2 linked regions of the Homo sapiens genome follow. The protein of the gene in region 2 binds, or shares a complex with, the protein of the main gene of each other region. Each region holds a gene or a part of one and is shown on either strand. Other genes may lie near its edges.

What was found.
Region 1: E2F2 (region 2) and TFDP2 share a complex: the UniProt entries of both Homo sapiens proteins name them as parts of the DRTF1/E2F transcription factor complex.

The regions. Positions count from the first base shown.
Region 1 is NC_000003.12:141,941,496-141,952,097, reverse strand, and holds the end of TFDP2 (transcription factor Dp-2), read left to right. Parts: 3' UTR 1-7,059; coding exon of another isoform or gene 7,060-7,088; 3' UTR 7,089-7,670; downstream 7,671-10,602. UniProt on the Homo sapiens protein: Can stimulate E2F-dependent transcription.
Region 2 is NC_000001.11:23,526,500-23,537,348, forward strand, and holds the start of E2F2 (transcription factor E2F2), read right to left. Parts: upstream 4,735-10,849; 5' UTR 4,295-4,734; coding exon 4,043-4,294; intron 1,921-4,042; exon of another isoform or gene 906-1,920; intron 572-905; exon of another isoform or gene 431-571; intron 1-430. UniProt on the Homo sapiens protein: Transcription activator that binds DNA cooperatively with DP proteins through the E2 recognition site, 5'-TTTC[CG]CGC-3' found in the promoter region of a number of genes whose products are involved in cell cycle regulation or in DNA replication.

The sequences.
Region 1 (10,602 bases), on a different chromosome or scaffold from region 2:
TGGACTGCCTTTGACAAGGCAGAAATGAACATGAAAAGTCCCCAGGAGAGGGGAGCTGTGTAGTGAGGGATACTGAGGGCAGTCCTGTGGCTGAGGGGCACAGATTGAACTGCTGAACTAGTTGGAGGTCTAGATGAGGTGCTTTACGCATCAGCTGCCTTAGACAGCTTCTAGAAAGGAGCGAGCGCTACTTCTTAAGTACTTAAGTGACATTTAGATAATTTATAGTAAAACTGAAATTATTATTAGCCAATGCATTGGTGCATAGAATTTACTAGGGCTACTTCTGGAAGCCAAAATAGAATAGCATTTCCATGTGCATTAAATACTTTGCCAGCACTGCCTTTGCCAGCATCCTAAATCTGGAGTTTTACAAAGAAGGAAACTGTATCTTTAGGTTAATCAAAGCTATGCATTTCATATAGCTTTTTCATTTAAAACAAGACAAAGAAACAAATTCCTATGACCAAATTGCTTGCCTACAGTTCCCTGCAGTAATTGTATGATCTCACCCAGTGTGCAATTTGTGAAAATGAACCAAATGTCATTACTTTTGTCTTAAAGAAAAGTCTATTTCAAGAATATGAACAGCAGTGTTTCCTTGTACATGTCACCTTTTTTCACATTTTCATTAATCAGAATGACCTTATTGAGCCTACTCCTGGGGTCAATTGCATTTCAAACTAATCCAATATTTAGTGTTTCACAGAAACACTAGAAAACGTTGAACACTCCTACTGCCTGGATATATGGTAGTGCAGTTATGTTGTTTATGGCTCAAGATGTCATTAGAAATACTGCAGTGGTGTATTCACAGCTGCTCCTTCTCTGAATGAAAGAGTGTAGGGACACCTGCCACCATGGCCAGACCCTGACTGAATTTCACATTAAGGCTTTGGAAAGGAGCAAATAATAATGGGAGAATTAACTCCAAAACTTTGACCTGAATCATGTGGATTTGTCCCAAGATTATGCTAGATGCACCAAGCATGGCCCAAATTGGTTCTTTTTTAAATCCCATGGGGGAAGTGCAGGCTCCTTCCTGTGGTGCCTCTTTATAGCCTCACCACCATGCTAACACTGAGCATGGTGAGGAGGAGGAAGCTTTGGCTAGCTAAACATGTTTAATAAGGCCATAAAAACTGAGAAAGAAAAACATTCAACTTTAGCTGAAGCTCCTTTGATACAAAAGTTTCATTCTGTCAGAAATAAGCCATAGTACAGACTCAGAGATAGAGGCAGTTTCTAGAGAACTCGGTCTTATCGTGGGTTCTGGAGCACACCTCTCAGACCAGTCAGGAACACTGGGGAGGTGACAGCAGGTCCCCAGGGGCCTGCAGGGAATCTTTCAGCTGCACGGATTGGGATTTCCCTCCAAACCAAACTGTCCTTTAAGGGGCAGCCTCCTCTTTTACTAACTCCACCCTTTCTCATCTCTGGGACCCAGCAGGGACCTGGAGAGGCCAACAGCCACTGCTACCTTTGTAGTCTTCAAAATATTGAACTGCAGGTCCCAAGATGCATTTCAGGATTTAAGACAGGTGCACTAATGATAACCATTCCTTCACCAAGTAGCAACATTCTTGCCAGAGTTCTTGGGAAACCTGTTTTTTTCTCTACTCTCCATCTCTGCTGCTCTCATGCTTTAAATTGATAAAATATGGGCTCAAAAAAAGAAAGCCGCCAAAGACTCTTATCCTTATTGGTGCCCCATCATTGGCCACCCCAGCCATAGGTGTGTGCTGTTGGTGGGAAATGGTCTCCTTCCTCAGCGTTGTGTTTGGGTTACTGGTGAGGCCAGCTCACAGAGTGACATCATGGTCACCAGTACATGTCGCTGGAGTAAAATCTTGCCTTTAGAAACTAGGTTGAGCTGTTCAGAAAGGTCAATTCTCTTCTGTATTCCCCCTCAACATTTATCTGGGTCTAAAGCTCAGCACTGAGTCACAATTTCACACAAGATCAAAGTGAGGCAGTGTTAGGAAACCATGGGCTGGGTGCAGTGCCTCTCGCCTGTAATCGTAGCACTTTGGGAGGCCGAGGCGGGCACATTGCTTGAGCTCAGGAGTTCAAGACCAGCCTGGGCAACATGACAAAACCCTGTCTCTACAAAAATACAAAAATTAGCTGGGTGTGGTGGGGCATGCCTGTAGTCCTGGCTACTCAAGAGGCTGAGGTGGGAGGATTGCTTGAGCGCAGGAGGCGGAGGTTGTAGAGCCAAGATCACACCACTGCACTCCAGCCTGGGTGACAGAGCAAGACCCTGTCTCAAAAAAAAAAAAAAAAAAAATGGAAGTTGTGGTCACAATGCCCAGGCTTCTTTGTTATAGTGGCACGCTGGGTTACTTGCCACACACAGATCACTCCTCCCAGGGCTGCTGGCACACACTGATTGTGGGGAGTTCAAGAGGCCTTTTCCCCTTGAGGGTGTGGCTGTCCCCCTTTCAGGCGTGTGGCGTCATTCATGGAGGAAGTGCTGGCTCTACTTAGCACACGCACAGTGGCACTAGGACCTGCGTGCCTGGCCCTCAGTGGGTAGGGCGGTGCTGCCTAGGCACACAGCAGCGCTTACGGGCCCCAGGTGCCTACTAGGCTGCCTTCCTCTTCCCCGCTGTCAGTCTGTGTCCTCCACGTGCTTATTTCCTGTGGTGAGAGCAGTTGTGGTGTTTGTATACCTTGTGCCTTATGATCAAGGTGGGCCTTGGAGGAGGGCGGGAAAGGAGCGACCAACATGGCGGTCCTCCACCCCTCAGCGACACCCACCGCCCGAGAAACTACAGACAATGGCCACAAGTTTGGCGTCCTTCAATTTAATTCTTTAAAGAAGTGCTGGGAAGAAAAAGCTATGTGGTTTCTACCATTTTAGCAGGATAAAGAGGATAACTCCTTCCATTAGCAAATTTTACAGTTGTTAACAGTACTCTGCCATATTTGAAAAATAATGCCAGAGTCAGTCCTTGAAAACAAGGTAGCTCCTATCAGAATTCAAATGGAAATTTTTTTTTTTTTTTTTTTTTTTTTTGAGACTGAGTCTCGCTCTGTTGCCCAGGCTGGAGTGCAGTGGTGATCTCGGCTCACTGCAAGCTCCGCCTCCCGGGTTCACGCCATTCTCCTGCCTCAGCTGGGACCATGCCTGGCTAATTTTTTTTGTATTTTTAGTAGAGACGGGGTTTCACCGTGTTAGCCAGGATGGTCTCGATCTCCTGACCTTATGATCCACCCCTCTCGGCCTCCCAAAGTGCTGGGATTACAGGCGTGAGCCACCGCACCCGGCCTCAAATGGAAATATTTCACAGAGGAGTGGTTCAGTTTAGCCCTGCAAGACATCTATAACTTGACTGTTTGCTAAACCACAACTCTTTTTGGCTACTTGGGTCATAGAGACAGCAGAGTTGCTCCAAGTATAAATGTGACTTAGGCTCCCTCCAGCACACAGTGTGTATGTTGGAGGGAGTGTGGATTAGCAGAGAATGAGAACTACCTCAGCTATTCCTGCCATAACCACACTGAGAGAGGGGGGCACGGTGGGGAGCCTATTTAGCTTTTTTTTTTTTTTGAGACGGAGTCTTGCTCTGTCGCCAGGCTGGAGTGTAGTGGCGCAATCCCGGCTCACTGCAACCTCTGCCTCCCGGGTTCAAGCGATTCTCCTGCCTCAGCCTCCCAAGTAGCTGGGATTATAGGCGCATGCCGCCACACCCGACTAATTTTTTGTATTTTTAGTAGAGTCAGGGTTTCACCGTGTTGCCCAGGCTGGTGTCGAACTCCTGACCTCAGGTGATCTGCCCACCTCAGCCTCCCGAAGTGCTGGGATTACAGGTGTGAGCCACCGCACCCGGCTCTATTTAGCTTTTTAAAAATTATTTCCTTTCAAGGGCCCTTTAATATCTATCAAGCTCCCTCCCCTAACAAAATGGGCTGTCCCTGCCCAACAAGTCTGAAATAGACCTTAAAACTGTGCTGCCTTAGTGGTAAGTAAGGGGTGGGGGTTGGACAGTGAATCTTAAGATTTCATCCTTCATTCAGTAAGCATTTGAGTACCTACTGTGAGCAGGCATTGGGGCGGAGCAGCGAGAGCCCTGCCGATGTTGGGTTCTCCTCCTATTGGGGAAACTTGATCACAGATGGAACACGTGCAGATTGATTGATGAGTGCTGTGGAGAAAGCAGCAGCGTAGCGGGACCGTTTGGGAAAGGCTACTTTGGCTGGGGGTGGCTGGGAAAGGCCCCTCTGGGAAAGAGACAGTTTTACTGAGTCAGATGGTGGAAAGACAGATGTCTCTATACTTTCTTAACAAGCCACTCTGTCCCATAACATGCACTTGGAATCTCTCCTAAGTTCCAGAGGCCCCACTGTTCCAGTTTCAAGCCTTCATTTTGGAGTCTGTTTGGGAACTTTTAAGACTTCAAAGCAAAGTTAGCTACCAGCAATTTCTGTAAACCAAGAGAAGATTGTCACAAAGATTCACTACTTTCCAACTGAATCTATGCAGTAGAAAAATCATTAGAAAATACAAAAATTAGCCGGGCGTGGTGGCACATGCCTGTAGTCCCAGCTACTCGGGAGGCTGAGGCAGGAGAATCACTTGAACCCAGGAGGCGGAGGTTGCAGTGAGCCAAGATCCCGCCACTGCACTCCAGCCCAGGTGACAGAGCAGGACTCTGTCTCAAAAAAAGAAAAAAGAAAGAAAGAAAAATGATTAGAAATTGAGAACTATTTTACGTGTTTCTAAGTTGTTGGCTACATCAAAGAGATCATCTGTATTCTGCATATGGGCTGGCTTTGGTGAAGCTGATGACTGGACTTCTAAGAACCGTTTTCCCAAATGGGTTCCCATATTCATGCACCCAAAGCAATGGTCCCCAAGCACTGATGAAAACTAATATGCATTTCCCAAAGACCCACACTATGTATCAGGAGCCTGCACCATGCCATTTGAATGACCCTCAGCAATGTGCCTCCCTGCCCTCAAATTCCCAGTTGATAACAGTGTTTGATTAAATTTCCACTCAAGCCAAACATGGTTACTAAGAAGAGAAAAACCTGATGTTTGCATAATATTTTTTTTCCCCTCGAGATGGAGTCTTGCTCTGTTGCCCAGGCTGGAGTGCAGTGGCATGATCTCAGCCACTGCAACCTCTGCCTCCCGGGTTCAAGCGATTCTTCTGCCTCAGCCTCCCAAGTAGTTGGGATTACAGACATGTGCCACCACGCCTGGCTAATTTTTGTATTTTTAGTAGAGACAGGGTTTCACCATGTTGACCACACTGGTCTTGAACTTCTAACCATGTGATCTGCCTGCCTCGGCCTCCCAAAGTGCTGGGATTACAGGCTTGAGCCACCACGCCCAGCCTAAGATTTTATGATTAAAAAAAATTCAAGCTCAATACCCACATAAATTATAACGTTTCTCAGGAAGTAGTCCCTTAACCAAAACGTCTCTGAGAAGTGATGCTTAGGTAATCTCTGGGATCCGATTTTCCCACATGTCTCACTCCACAGTATGCTAAAGAAGAAAAAGTGAGTGGGCACAACACTTTGACCCTCTGGCTAAGCCCTGGGAGTCCCTGACAGGTCCAGAAACTTCTCTGACACCCATTCACCAGGGTGCTGAGATAGGAGAAAGTGCTCATTTATAATGTGTATTCTGTGCAGCTGTTCTCAGACAAGACCGGATCTTGTCATCTTACCTTTTGCTTTACAAAAAAGGCCTGTTGAAGTCAATGCTGTCTTGCCCCTTGCTGTTTCAGCAGGTTAGACTTTGGTCTTCACTGCTTATAGCTGCATTGGAGGCCAACGTAGCTGATGCTCAGGGTCAGGCCTCGCCCCTTCGCCGCAGGTCTCAGGATCGGGGATAACATCGCTCCCACCCTGCTCATTTAGAGATGGGAAACAAGCAAGAGCTTGACTTGCCTCCCATCCCTCAGCCTGTCTGTGGCAGAGCCTGCACCAAAACCCAGAGCTTCTTCCCTCCGTGAGGGCCACGCTGTCACCACAGTCCTCCCAGATGGGTTTTGGATTAGCATCAGTCCTGTGTCACCAAGTGCCAAACAGCTGAGGGGTAGAAGTGGGACTCCTTTCCCGAGCCCCAGCATGAGGCTGTGGTGTCAGGTTTAGGCCTCTCTCAAGTCAGAAAACCCCGGGCTGAGACCTCCACAGACAAGGGCTCCCCATGCTGGCCATTGGCAGGGGCCCAAGAAGTTCAGTGACCAACTGGTCCTTCCACACCACACCAGCTGGTGCTGCCCATGTCTGTCGAATCATAACGGAAAATTCCCCAGATCACGTTTGGATTTAAAAACTCATCCCTTGTCGTGCTTCAATGCATGCCATTTGTCACTTACCATACTTCACCATGGCCGAGCTTCATGTCACATGGCCTGGCGATTGTGCTTGTTCACACTGGGGCCAGGATTTTCATACTAAAACGTCACTGACAATGGGGCTACTTTTCTCCTGAATAGCTCCTCTGGGCTTGTTGCAGTTCTAGTTTTCCCAGTAGTTCCATGGCAGGTTCAACCTCTCAGTGTCCTGAAAAATGGAACCACCCACTAACCATATGCACTGGCTGCCCAGGTGGCTGCACTCCGGGGATCACGTTTCAGTACTGAGTTCCTTCACGCACTTGGTTCACCACCATCACTCTTGAGTTTTGGACAAAAGAGGTGGGTATGCCAGGCACAGTGGCTCACGCCTGTGATCCCAGCACTTTGGGAGGCCGAGGCGGGCGGATCACCTGAGGTCGGGAGTTCGAAACCAGCCTGACCAACATGGAGAAACCCTGTCTCTACTAAAAATATAAAATTAGCCGGGTGTGGTGGCGCATGCCTGTAATCCCAGCTACTCGGGAGGCTGAGGCAGGAGAATCTCTTGAACCCAGGAGGCAAAAGTTGCAATGAGCTGAGATCGTGCCATTTGCACTCCAGCCTGGGCAACAAGAGCGAAATTCCATCTCAAAAAAAAAAGGTGGGTAAAGGGCCATGAGCCCAAACCACTAGGTTGTTCACCTTTTCATCTGAAAATGCTTTACTCTGACTATGTGCTATTGGGTTTTATTTCCAGAAAATATAGTTCTCCTTTTTTCTGCATGAAGGATACATCGTGGTGCCACATGCTTTAAGCAATTTAAACAAGAGAGATAAGAGGAAAATGCAACCACCACATCTGACTTGCCCAATGTAGACTTTCCTTTATTAGATTGAAGTACACAACCTAATATGATATATTATTTTGTAGTATCTCAGACTTTGTAAATAAATGCCATTATTTTTATATGGAAATTTTATAGAAGAGCTATTTCTGTATACGTAATTACTCCTGATTTTCTGAAATTGCTTCTGGTAGATAACAGACAAGTCCTAAGCAGTGTTCCACTAAGGGTGGTTCCAGGCCTGCCTGCCGTGGAGTTGACTGGGGGAATTTTACAGTTTTGCGATCCTAGGATGCGTCCCAGACGCTCAGTCAGAAGTGCTGGAGGTGGGGCCTGGGAAGCTGTATTTGTAATGAACTCTGGTGTTTTTTGTCCATTAAAGTGTATCTTTGTCCATCCTATAAGATTAAAGGAAAGAAAAAGCATCTCAAATGAGTGTAAGTTGTTCTTGAGAAAAAAATGTATCAGACTTTTATGATTTGAATGAAATGTATTATAGAAAAAAATAAACACTTTAAAATAATGTTAGTCTCATTACTAGTGGGTCAGGATATTTTTAGTTAAAAAAGGAGGTGTTAGGCCATGCGCAGTGGCTCACGCCTATAACCCCAGCACTTTGGGAGGCCAAGGTGGTCGTATCATTTGAGGTCAGGAGTTCAAGACTAGCCTGGCCAACATGGTGAGATCCCGTCACCACTAAAACTACAAAAATGAGCTGGGTGTGGTGGCATGCGCCTGTAATCCCAGCAACTTGGCGCAGGAGAATCGCTTGAACCTGGGAGGCGGAAGTTGCAGTGAGCTGAGATCACACCACTGCAGTCCAGCCTGGGCAACAGAGTGAGACTCCATCTCAAAAAAAAAAAAAAAAGCCTTTTTTTTGTTTTTGTTTGTGAGATGGAGTCTCTGTTGCCCAGGCTAGAGTGCAGTGGTGCAATCTTGGCTCACTGCAACCCCCACCTCCCAGATTCAAGGGATTCTCCTGCCTCAGCCTCTGGAGTACCTGGGATTACAGGCACGTGCCACCACACCCGGCTTATTTTTGTATTTTTTTTTTTTTTTTTTGAGACGGAGTCTCGCTCTGTCACCCAGGCTGGAGTGCAGTGGCGCAGTCTCGGCTCACTGCAAGCTCCGCCTCCCGGGTTCACGCCATTCTCCTGCCTCAGCCTCTCCGAGTAGCTGGGACTACAGGCGCCCGCCACCACGCCCGGCTAATTTTTTTTTATTTTTAGTAGAGACGGGGTTTCACCGTGGTCTCGATCTCCTGACCTCGTGATCCACCCGCCTCGGCCTCCCAAAGTGCTGGGATTACAAGCGTGCAGCACCGCGCCCGGCCTATTTTTGTATTTTTAATAGAGATGGTGTTTCACCATGTTGACCAGGATGGTCTCCAACTCCTAGCATCAAGTGATCCTCCCACCTCAGCCTCCCAAACTGCTGGGATTAAAATAAAAAAGAACAATAGGCCGGGTGCAATGGCTCATACCTATAATCCCAGCACTTTGGGAGGCTGAGGTGGTCGGATCACTTGAGGCCCGGAGTTCGAGCCCAGCTTGGCCAACATGGTGAAACCCAGTCTCTACTAAAAATACAAAAAATTAGCCAGGTGTGGTGGCGGTCGCCTGTAATCCCAGCTACTCGGGAGGCTGAGGCAGGAGAATTGCTTGAACTCAGGAGGCAGAGGCTACAGTGAGCCAAGATCGCGCCATCGCACTCCAGCCTGGGCAACAAGAGCGAAACTCCATCTCAAAAAAAAAGAAAAATGAACAATAAAATAATGGTGGGCTGTTCGGGTGAGGGTAGTGGGTACTCTGGGGCTCTGCCAGAGAGTAAGGACTGAGACCCTCTTTCAACATCTGAGTTCCTCTTCATGAATTGCCCTCAGAAGGGTGGCCAGGGCCGGGCGCGGTGGCTCACACCTGTAATCCCAACACTGGGAGGCCGAGGTGGGCGGATCACAAGGTCAGGAGATCGAGACCATCCTGGCTAACATGGTGAAACCCTGTTTCCACTAAAAATACAAAAAATAGGCCAGGCGCAGTGGCTCACGCCTGTAATCCCAGCACTTTGGGAGGCCGAGGCGGGCGGATCACGAGGTCAGGAGATCAAGACCATCCTGGCTAACACGGTGAAACCCCGTCTCTACTAAAAATACAAAAAAATTAGCCAGGTGTGGTGACGGGCGCCTGTAGTCCCAGCTACTTGGGAGGCTGAGGCAGGAGAATGGTGTGAACCTGGGAGGTGGAGATTGCCCCACTGCACTCCAGCCTGGGTGACAGAGCGAGACTCCGTCTCAAAAAAAAAAAAAAAAAATTAGCCGGGCATGGTGGCGGGCTCCTGTGGTCCCAGCTACTCGGGAGGCTGAGGCAGGAGAATGGCATGAACCCAGGAGGCGGAGCTTGCAGCTAGCCGAGATAGTGCCACTGCACTCCAGCCTGGGTGACAGAGCAAGACTCTGTCTGAAAAAAAAAAAAAAGAAGAAGGGTGGCCAGGTGCCGTGGCTTACCCCTGTAATCTTAGCACTTTGGGAGGCTAGGCCCAGAATTGCTTCCCTGCAATTCGTAGGGAAGATGCTTTCTTATCATCTCTTACACCAAACCAGCATCAGCGAGAACAGCGACAGCAGTCAATATAGAATGCCATGTCCCCAGGCCTCAGGTGGAATGTCACCTGACCTCCGGAACATAGCAGCCCCTCAGCACCTGATCACGCAGTCTCTACCTGTCTCAGGGAGAGGCCGGAACCCTAGATAGCTTATCTCCTATGTTCCAACAAGTTGAGCACGTGGACAATCAGAAGGCACAGAAGGGTGTGGAGCAGTTCAGGGGCCAGCAAGTAGACCCAGGTCTTGAAAAGGAGATGGCTAAGTAAGCACTCGATGACATATTGGAAGGAATGCATCTTCCCATAAAGACTCCCCCTGGAGTTTCACAGACCAAATAAGGGTGGCGGTGGTGGGGAAGTGGTGAGCCTGTGCTCAAGCCCCTTACCCCAGGGGTCTCCTGGAGTAGTGAGCCAAGCTGGTATTGTGCCTTCTCCGTTCCTCCCGGCCTAGAGGAGCCACTTACTAGTGCCGTTTGGTGAAGGTGTCCAAGGACTCATGGGAGTAACCACTGTATCTCTTGGGCTTAAGAAGGTGCTTTTGTTCTTGTAGCCACATGGGGGATGGCACAGCGACTGAATACACCGCTGACCAGGGGCGATACCTGCAAGCCCACAGAATTGTCTACGAAGAGACAAACTATTTTCAAAAATATTTAAAGAGATTTATTCCGAGCCAAATATGAGTGACCATGGCCCCTGACACAGCCCTCAGGAGGTCCAAGAACATGTGTGCAAGGTGGTCAGGGTGCAGCTTGGTTTTATACATTTTAGGGAGACATGAGACTTCAATCAAGTATGTTTAAAAAATACGTTGGTTCGGTCCAGAAAGGTGGGACAACTCGAAGGTGGGGGGC
Region 2 (10,849 bases):
CCCAGAGCCTCCCCAGCCACACCTGTCTCCCCCGCCAGAACAAACCAGAAAGAATCCCAGGAAGACCTTGAACAGAATATCTATGCTGAGCCTGTTACATGCTCGTAACAGTCCTACCACATCAGTATTGGCACTGGCTCTCGGAAGCCAAAAAATGGAGACTTACAGAGAGTAAGCACATGCCCAAGGTCACACAAAGGCCGGAGCCAGGGTTTGAACCCAGGCCTGTCTGACTGCAAAGCCATGTACCAGGCTGCCTCAGCTGCATCCCACACACGCTGCCCCAGGATTTGCTAGAATTTGGGCCAAGGCCTGGGCTACGCCCACCTGCCCCCATCACTGCATGTACTTGCACACACACACACACACACACACACACACAGCCTTCTCTCTTTTCTCACTCTCCTTCACCCTTATTCTGCACTCCCAGGGTCCCAATGCGGCAAGTGTCCCCCTAAGGATACCTCCCTGACACCTTTGGACAGTGCCCAGAGGAAAGTCAGCCTATGGCTTGGGCTGAACCTGCAGAACACAGGTGGCAGAGGACAAGCCCAGGAGGATCAGCATCAAGGTGAGGCTGAGCACAGGTCTTGGAGTCAGACTGGCCTGGCTTTGCATCTAGGCCTTCCCCTTCTTAGCTGGGAAATCAGTTGACGTCAAGTCACCTATAAAATGGGCATCATTGTCTCCACCTATGCTGAGGATTCAGTGAGATAGTGCAGCAAAGCGCTTTGCCCATAGGGAGTGCCCCCACCAGGGAGCTGCTAGCACTGATGTATGGGGAGCACCAGTGGGAAAAGGGGAAAGTTCAAGGGTGAGCTGAAAAGAGACTGCGATGAGGGGAGGAGAGCAAAGGCTATGGCCACAGCCAGAGGCCAGCTTAGCCCTATCCTGGACGCTCTTAGGCAGCCCCTTTGGCTGGATCTTCAAGGCCTGGTCAGGACGCAAGCCCACCCTGCCAACCCCTATGGAGAAGAGTACAGCTCCTTCCTCAGGCAGCTGCAGAAGTGCAGAGGGTCAGAGATCACCAGGCACAACCCCCTTACGGGCACCACGGTGAGGAAACTGGGACTTGGGGAAGAGGAATTGACTTGCCCAAGGTCACGCAGAGTGGAGCCTGGTCTCTCCTAAGCCCTAAGTCAGATGGTGGGGGTAGGAGCAAATGTAAGGGGTCGAACCTTGCTTTCAGATCCCAGCTCTGCCACTTCGTAGCTGAACAGCCTGGGATTCACTGTCTTGCCTCTCTGAGCCTACACCTCCTCACCTGACCTGCCTTGTAGAGTTGTGTGTTAAAATGTTTATTTTCTTTCATGCCTCACAAGAGGAAATCTGGAAAATGTAGACAAATTGAAAGAAAAGGAGGACCGGGCGTGGTGGCTCACGCTTGTAATCCCAGCACTTTGGGAGGCCAAGGCGGGTGGATCACCTGAGGTCAGGAGTTCGAAGCTAGCCTGGCCAACATGGTGAAACCCCATCTCTACTAAAAATACAAAAAGTAATCCCAGCTACTTGGGAGGCTGAGACAGGAGAATCATTTGAACCTGGGAGGTGGAGTTTGCAGTGAGCAGAGATGGCGCTATTGCAAGCCAGCCTGGGCAGAGCTTCCTGCAGGCGTGAAAGAGAATGATGCCATGCGCCTGGCCAGAGGAGGCATGCGATAAAGGGGCATTCCCTGAGCCTTCCTCAGAGGACTTGGAAAGAGCTCTGGACAGGGAGCCAGGAGATCTGGGTTGTGGCCTTCATTCTGCCATTGAACTTGGTTGCCATCCTTGGACAGTGCCTGAGGTCCCTTTAAACAGAAGCTCCACAACAAATCCTGCTCACCCTGCACTTTGCAGCCCGGCCACAAAGCAAGCGGCCACACCCAGGGTTGGGTTTGGAGCTGTTCCAGGTCACGCCCTTGTAAAATGAGTAAGCAGAGGGCAGGCCTGCCCACGGGGCTGGGCCCCGGGCATCTGGGGATTGACAGGAGCGGGAGCTCTGGGCCTGGCAGGGCTTTAGGGTGGTCTGCTGCAAGGAGACTCCCCTGCTTCTTCACTTGTGACCCAGGCAAGTGACTTCCTTTCTTTGCTCAGTTTCCTTATCTGCAAGGTGCCTCATTCTGGACATCCTGACCAAGATAATGAACGTGAAGAGTGCCAAGCAGTGTCTGGCACACGAGAGGCACTCAGTAAAAGAGAGACCTTCTTGCTAAGATCACTGAGCCCTTCTGGGAGGGAGGTACAGACAGATGTACTTGGGCTCCTCTGGGAGGGTTCAAAGCAGTGTAAAACCACAGCTGTTACTGAAACTTCCAGTCTGAAAGCAGCTGGCCAGAGGAGAGTGGGCCTGCCGCAAAGCTCCCTTCCCTGGGGGGAGCTCAGCTCCTAAGTTAGGCAGTATTAAAAAAAGTCAAGGCTACATAGAGAAGAGCCTGCTGCCTGACCAGGTGCATTAGAGTAGCTAGCTCATGCCTGTAATCCCAGCACTTTGGGAGGCTGAGGCAAGAGGATTGCTTGAGCCCAGGAGTTTGAGACCAGCCTGGGGAACATAGGGAGACCCCTGTCTCTACAAAAAATAAAAAATAAAAGACAGAAGAGCTGACTGCCTTGTGAGTCCCATCACTCTACCCCATCCCCATCTCTGACCTTAGGTCACATCCCCTCTCTGAGCCTCAGTTTCCCCCTGTAACATGGAGCTATTAATGCCATCTATTTCACGAACTACAAAGATGTTTTAGGCTATAAAACACTGAACACAAGATACCCAATCCCAGTTATCCTCGGTTGCTTAACCTGTAAAATGGGGATAATACCATTCCTGCCCACTGCCCTCCTAGTTAGAAATCATGTGCAGGAAGGGTCTCCAGGAAGGTTAACGTTTTGAACATGGGCAAAGCCTGAGTCCACTGGCAGGGAGTGGTGGCTCTGCCTGCATCCAGAGCTGGCTGGGCATCCGTGCTTGCTGACTAGCACAGGTCTGACCAGATGCCTCTGGGGCAGTGGGGGGTGGTCTTATCCCTGTACCCGAACTTATTCACCAAACTCACAACTAAGCAAACCTACAACACCCCCTTCCTCTCCCTGGAGCCTGCTTCCAAAACCCAGGACCTGGAGCTGAATGTGGCTGAGAAGAGCTAGCCCCACAGCCACCCTGTGCACACACGCATTGTGAAGGAGAGAACACTGAAGCCCAGACTGGGTCCAAGACTTGTCCAAGGACACACAGAGAATTAGTGGCAGAGTCACACCAGAAACCAGGCTCCTCAACCACCACCACCTCCACTCCCCCAGGCTTTTCCCACTCCACCCCCCACCCTAAAGTTGTTTTGATTCACACGGGCTCCAGGAATTCCACTCCCACAAAACACACCCTGAGCCCAGGTCAGCAGGCAGCCTGGTGCCACTACACTTTGGGCCCTCTCTGGCAACGAGCCTGGGAGCTTGAGGAGAGAGCAGCCAATCTGAACAGAACCCAAGGGGGCTGCCCACATTTGTATCTGCTACATGGCTGTCTGGGAGGGAAGACTGGGCCTGGGGGAGGACCTAGGGCAGATACTTGGGGCTATCTCAGGAGCTGGCTGGACAATTTGGAGTCTGTCCATGGCAGATTGGATGTGAGAGACCCACTAGACCTATCCCTCTGTCTTACCAAAGTCCCACAGTGTCCCCAGGCCATACTCTTTGCCTGGACAATAGCAGGCACCCAGTACTGGTTTCTGGCCAAACAATGAAGTAATGAATGAATGGCGGCAACGCTGGCTGCATGGACTTCCCCAAGGTCACACAGTGCACTGGGAGTAGTGAGTTGGGTCTCCCTCCAGACTCGCAATCCAGTGCTCATTCCACTCCACTAGAATGGATGAGATTATTTCATCCAAAGTCTGAAAATGAAGGGGTCTTCTACTCAGATATTGGGGGCACTGGGTCCTGGAAACTGAAAGCTCATCTTCCCTCTTCCCAAAACTCTACCTGCTCCACTCAAACTGGATCTCAGGCACCCCTCCCTCCTTTCCCACACCTGGAAAAGCATAGGGGGAAGCGGTGGGGGCCCCCAGCATTACCGGCAGCCGGCCTGCCGGCAGGCATCGCACAACTTGGCCCTCGGGTCCGTGGGGAGTGGCGTCGAGGCAGGTGCCTGGCGCCGCTGCGGGAGGCGCCGTCTGCGGGTACAGCGGTGTGTAGTAGGTAGCAGTAGCTGGGCAGAGCTGGGGGCTGCTGAGGCCGGATGGCCACAGCTCTGTGGGGCTCATCGCGGGCACCACCTTCGGGGTCTGCCCAGCGGCCGAAGCCAAGGCCCGGGGCCCTTGCAGCATAGCGAGTAAGGCGCCCCCTACCCAAAAGGGCTTGGCGCGCCCGCGGACACCTGCGGGTTCCGGTGCTGCCGCCTTTCACACGGCCCGCGGCATGGCGCGGAGGCCGGGGGAAGCCGCCAATGGACGCCTGCGGGGCAAGGCCGGACCCTCCCCTCCTGGCCCGCGGCCGAGCAGAGAGCAGCGCTTAGAGATCGCCGCTTGGAGATCGCCCGGCGGCTGCGGTGGTGGCACTGCCAGGGGCTGTCTCGTCCCGAGGGCACCGCGACCCGGGACGCCCCGCGCTCCCCAAGGCCTCGGCACCTGGGGTCCGGCCGGCTCTGGGGAGGGGTCCCCGGCGTGCCCTCAAGCTCGGCGGAGACGCGATGCGCTGGGATGGGGAGGGGGGTCTCGACTGCACCGACTTCCTTGCGGCTCGCTCTCTAGTCCTTGAGTCTTTCTCTGCCTCTTTTTTTTCTTCTTTTTTTTTTTTTTTTAGCGCCAAACGTCGTGCCGCGAAATTCGGATCTCCCGCGGAAAATGCCGCGCTCCGGTTGGCTGCTGCGACAGTACAGGCTCCACCCCCCCCCCCCCCCCCGGAAAGAACGCGTCCTCGAGGCGGCGATTGCAACACTAGCTTCGCTGCTTAAAGGGGCAGCCACACCTGCTGTTGGTGCCGCCAGCCGCCGGCCGCGCTAGTTAGCAGCCGGCGAGACGGAGACAGAGGGTGGTTCCGGGATTCACAGTGCAGAGGCGGCCAGAGCAGTGCACAGCGCCCCGAGAAATGGGCCCGGATTCCCTGGGATTGAAGGGAAACATTTTGGCGCGGGGTCCCAGCCTGAGCCCAGACCCAGCAGTGTATTCCCCAGGCCACAGGCCCTTTTGTTAGTTTGCATTGTTGCTTAGCTAGCACATGTGCATTCATATCCCCTTTCCTGCTAAAATGAAGGCCAGGAACCTGTTCCCTTTAATGGCAGAGGGGTGAGGGACGGAGGCAAACTAGTCTACTTCTTTGTAGGGAAAACTAACATCTATTCAGCGCCTACAGGATGCCAGGCACCATGCTAGATCCTTACAAGCGTTGTTTTAGTTAATTTATTCCAACAATCCTGGGAAGAGGAATGATGATCCCCATGATAAAGACTGACAGTCTGAAAGGCTGGGTAACTTGCCCAAGGTCATACAGAGAGATTCCCTGATTTGAGAGCTGGCAACAGAATCTGGGACAGGTCCCAGCTCTGGAGCCCTTGTTTTTCCAGTTAAGGGGTTCTTCTACTCTCCCAAGCTGCCTGGGGGCACAGCAGGGTCAGAGTCCCACTGCAGAGCTTTGTCTTGTTCACAGTTGTATTATTAGGACCCAATACTCAGTAAATGTTTGAACATCTCTAGGTTTCTTTTAAACAATCCTTTTGTCACAAGAGCCTCTCTGCCTCATTCAAAAACCTTCATTGCTGATAATACATTCCTCATCACTCCGGTTTAGAGAGGCTCAGAGAAGCAAACTTGGGTAGTGAGTGGTAAAAAGTTGCTAGAAGCTGCTGCTAGATTTCAGGTCTGATTTCTTGCCTGGTGCTGTGTGATTTTTATGCAAGTCTGAGCCTTGGCATTCAAAGCCCTCCAGAGACAGTCCACAGCTTAATTCCTCATTAGATGGTTGAGGCCAAGGTGGCAATAACCCATGATGATTAAGAGCCCAGGCTTTGTAGCCAACAGCCCCGAATTCAAACCCAGGCCCAGACACTTTATTATTCATTGTGTGACCAAGGCAAATTTTGTAAATTCTCTGATCCTTGATCCTTGATTTTCTCCTCCTAATAGCACTTACCTCATATGATCATGAGGAAATCTCATGAGATAATGCATATAAAGCTTTCATCACAGAACCTGGATCATAAGGAGCCTCAAGAATTGGCAGCTGTTGTTATATCTCTGACTTTTTTTTTTTAGACAGAGTCTCACTCTGTCACCAGGTTGGAGTGCAGCGGTGCAATTCTCCTGCCTCAGGTTCAAGTGAGTCTCCTGCCTCAGCCTCCCGAGTAGCTGGGATTACAGGCGCCAGCCACCATGCCTGGCTAATTTTTGTATTTTCAGTAGAGGCAGGGTTTCACCATGTTGGCCACGCTGGTCTCGGACTCCTGACCTCAGGCAATCCGCCCTACTTGGCCTCCCAAAGTGCTGGGATTACAGGTGTGAGTCACCGCTCCCGGTCACATCTCTGACCTTATCTCCAGTGCATAAGACCCTTTTACTCTAGTCTACGTATCTCATTGGTCCTTTTTGGTCCTTTGAGGGCCAGCTTAAATCTCACCTCCTCCAAGAAGCCTCCCCTGCCTGCTTCCTCTCAGCCAGAATGGCTCTTACCCTCTTGGGACCCTTAGTGTGTTCTACCTCAACAAAACAAGGCTTCGTTTTCATACCTTGTTTATCAGTTAGGTTCTATGCTCCTTCAAGAATCTAGGTCAGATCTCTCTAGAATGCCCCTTAGCATCTAGGGCCTGGCTTGGAGTGCAGAAGGCAGGTAATAAATACTGATTATGATTCACTCATCTGCCTGGCTGCAAAGAATAGGAGAAGTTAATGAGATCTGAAGTCAGAAAGTCAGGAGGCCCAGATTAAGTAAGTCCCGCTCTCTACTTCCTAGTTAAGTGACACTGGACAGCCGCTGCTTCACTTCTCTTAACCACAATTTCCTCAACCATCAAATGTGGATAATGCTATCACTCAGTCAATTTCACATTACTTCAGAGACACTACTTAAATGACAGTGGTGGCGATGATCACTGATTTTTATTGAGAACCTACTATACACTGGGCTCTAAGCACCTTGAGCCCCTCCTCTGATCCTCACAACACTGCTCTGAGACGGACACTATTATTATCCCCATTTTACAGATGAGGGAACCTGGAAGGAATTGTGGCAGAGCAGGTTTGGGGAAGCAGCAGGGCCCCAGGGCCAGGGAGGGAAATGGGGGTGGCAGGGTGGAGCTGGGAGAAAAGAAGGGAGCCAGTGAGGGGCTGAGAGCCAGCTCTCTGTGGTTGAGTTTCGGGCAGCTGGGGCTGGCTTTAGAGTTTCACTGCCTGGGAACTGACTAATTCTTGCAATAGGTGTGGGGCACAGATCTGAAATCTGCCTCCCTGAGCTTGAATTCCTGCCCCATTCATTCCTAGCATTGTGATCATGGTCAGGTTGCTGGACCATTCTGAGTCTCAATTTCCTCATCTTTGAAATGGAGGCGGCACAAGTGACCTCTCCATTTACTGTGAGGCCTTAGTAAGGTGTTGGTTATAAAGTCCTTAGAGAAATGTCAGGTGCATGGTAGGTACTTAATATATTTTGGCTAAGGTTTATGTGAAATGGACCCGAAGAGGCCCTCACATGGAACCAGACTAAATACTTGCAGTTTCAGGCCGGGCACATTGGTTCATGCCTGTGAACCCAGCACTTTGGGAGGCCAAGGTGGACAGATCTGTTGAGCCCAGGAGTTTGAGACCAGCCTGGGCAACATGGCAAAACTCTGTCTCTCCAAAATACAGAAAAATTAGCTGGGCGTGGTGGCACACGCCTGTAATCCCAGCTGCTCGGGAGGCTGAGGTGGGAGGATCACCTGAGCCCAGGGAGGTCAAGGCTGCAGTGAGCCATGATCATGTCACTGCACTCCAGCCTGGGTGACACAGTAAGACTGTCTCAAAATAAACAAACAGGCCGGGCACGGTGGCTCATGCCTGTAATCCCAGCACTTTGGGAGGCCGAGGTGGGTGGATCACTTGAGACCAGGAGCTTGAGATCAGCATGGTCAACATGGCAAAAACCTGTCTCTACTAAAAATACAAAAAAAAAAAAAATTAGCCAGGCGTGGTGGTGTGTGCTTGTAATCCCAGCTACTCGGGAGGCTGAGGCAGGAGAATCGCTTGAACCCAGGAGGTGGAGGTTGCAATGAGCCAAGATCGTGCCACTGCACTCCAGCCTGGGTCACAGAGCGAGACCCTGTCTCAAACACACACACACACATACACACACACACACACACACACACACACACACAAAACCCTCAGAGTTTCTGCCGTACACGCCCTACACTTTCCCATCTCCCAGGCTTTGCTTACCTGGCTCCATATCCTCCTATTCTTCAGGCCCCGCCTCCCCTCCAGGCCCCTCCTCCCCTCCATCCCCATGTGCCCAAATCTGACTCATCCTTCAAGGTCCAACTCAAATGGAGTGGAAGGAGCAAAGAATCTGAAGTCAGACATCCCAGGGTTCAAACCCAGGCCCTGACACTTTATTAGCTGTGTGACCCAGGCAAAATTTCCTAAATTCTCTGATCTTTGATCCTTGATTTTCTAATCCTAATAGCACTTACCTCATAGGATTGTGAAGAAATCTCATAGATAATGCATATAAAGCTTTCAGCATGGAACCTGGTTTATAAGGAGCCTCAAGAATTGGCAGTTTTCTTACGTCTCTGATCCTATCTCCAGTGCATAAGACCCTTTTACTTTAATCTACCTATCAACAAATCTTCAGACTCCTTGGGGGCAGGACCCAGGCTTTGTTTTCACTTTTGCGCCTTCCTCCCCTGAGATGCCAGGCACAAAGTAGGCCTGAAATAAATGATAATAGTTCACATTTCCTGAGAACTTCCTAGGCGTAAACACCCAGCTAGGTATTTTACATACATTATTTTGTCGAAACCTCCCAACTACCCTGTAACACAGGTACATTTTGGACAGATGAAGAAATTGAAGCTGAAATATGTAAAGGAACTTGACAACTGTTTGAAGATGAAATCAGGATCTGAACTCAGATCTCTCCCAAGGCACTGCGCTGTTGTGAACAGTGAACTCAGCCCCAAAACCCCATGTGAAGGAGGGTACATTCTGCTAATGAACCAGGGGTTCCAGTGCTGCACACATTGCTGGAAGTGGAAAGACTGTGTCCCACAACTGGATGAGTTGGGGATGCTTAGTACTATTTTCCAGATGAGGAAGCCATGACTTGCCTGAGGCCACAGAGCAGGTAAGTGAGGAAGTTCCTGTTCCAGGCAACCCCAGATAGTCCTGGAAAAATCCCCAAACTAAAGCAAACTTCCATTCCAGCTGGTGTATCTTCTCCTGAAAAATTCCACAGATTCCCTGTGCTCAAAGTCCTGTTAATCAGAATACAAACTGCTTGACAGACACTTCCTGAAGGTACATATTCCCTGTCCCGGGCTCCTCAGCACATCACCTGTTCACACGAATCCCAAATCACAGAGAAACCAGATCAGAGCTATGGGAAACAAGGGAGAAAAATCCCTGCTCCATCTTCTTTGTGCTTTTCCTATTCTACAATAAACATGTATTACTTTGGTGATTGGAGAAAAAAAAGTTGTTTTTTAAAAAGAGAAACAAGGTATTGCTTTAAGGAAGTTCTGCTAGTGGTAACCTTTTTACTGGAACATTGTTGGAAGATGGGTTCGTGGGCTTTTCTAACAGTGACTGGCATGTAGTAAACACTATATGAATGTTTGTTAAATACATAAAATTCTAGGTGCAGGCCGGGCGCGGTGGCTCACGCCTGTAATCTCAGCACTTTGGGAGGCTGAGGCGGGCGGATCATGAGGTCAGGAGATTGAGACCATCCTGGCTAACACGGTGAAACCCCGTCTCTACTAAAAATACAAAAAATTAGCCGGGCGAGATGGCAGGCGCCTGTAGTCCCAGCTACTCGGGAGGCTGAGGCAGGAGAATGGCGTGAACCCAGGGGCGGAGCCTGCAGTGAGCCGAGATCTCGACACTGCACTCCAGCCTGGGCGACAGTGACTCTGTCTCAAAAAAAAAAAAAAAAAAAAAATCTAGGTGCAGTGGTTCGTGCCTGTAATCCCAACACTTTGGGAGCCCGAGGTGGGTGGATCAGTTGAGGCCAGGAGTTCGACACCAGCCTGGCCAACATGGAAAAACCCTGTCTCTACTGAAAATATAAAAATTAGCTAGGTGTGGTGGTGCACACCTGTAATTCCAGCTACTCGGAAGGCTAAGGCAGGAGAATCGCTTGAACCCAGGAAGCGGAGGTTGCAGTGAGCCAAGATTGCACCACTGCACTCCAGCTTGGGAGACAGAGTGAGAACCCGTCTCAAAAAAATAAAAATAAAGAAAAATAAAGAAAAAAACATAAAATTCTAAATCTTGGCACTCCATAAGCTATGTGCTCTTGGACATATCATTGCATTACTCTGGGCCTCTGTTCCTTCATCTGATAAACAGGGCTAATCACAGCTGTCTCGGGTTTATTGCGTTGAAGTGAATCTGGGATGGGATGTGAATGTGCTGTGTGTGTGTGTGTGTGTGTGTGTGTGTACCAAAATTTATTAAGAAGGCAAACAATTTGGTTGGACAACTCTTCAAAGAAAATATACAGAGGCCAGGCCGGACGCAGTGGCTCACACACTTGTAATCCCAGCACTTTGGGAGCCTGAGGCAGGTGGATCACCTGAGGTCAGGCGTTCGAGACCAGCCTGGCTAACATGGTGAAACCCTGACTCTACTAAAAATACAAAAATTAGCTGGGCGTGATGGCGGGCGCCTGTAGTACCAGCTACTCAG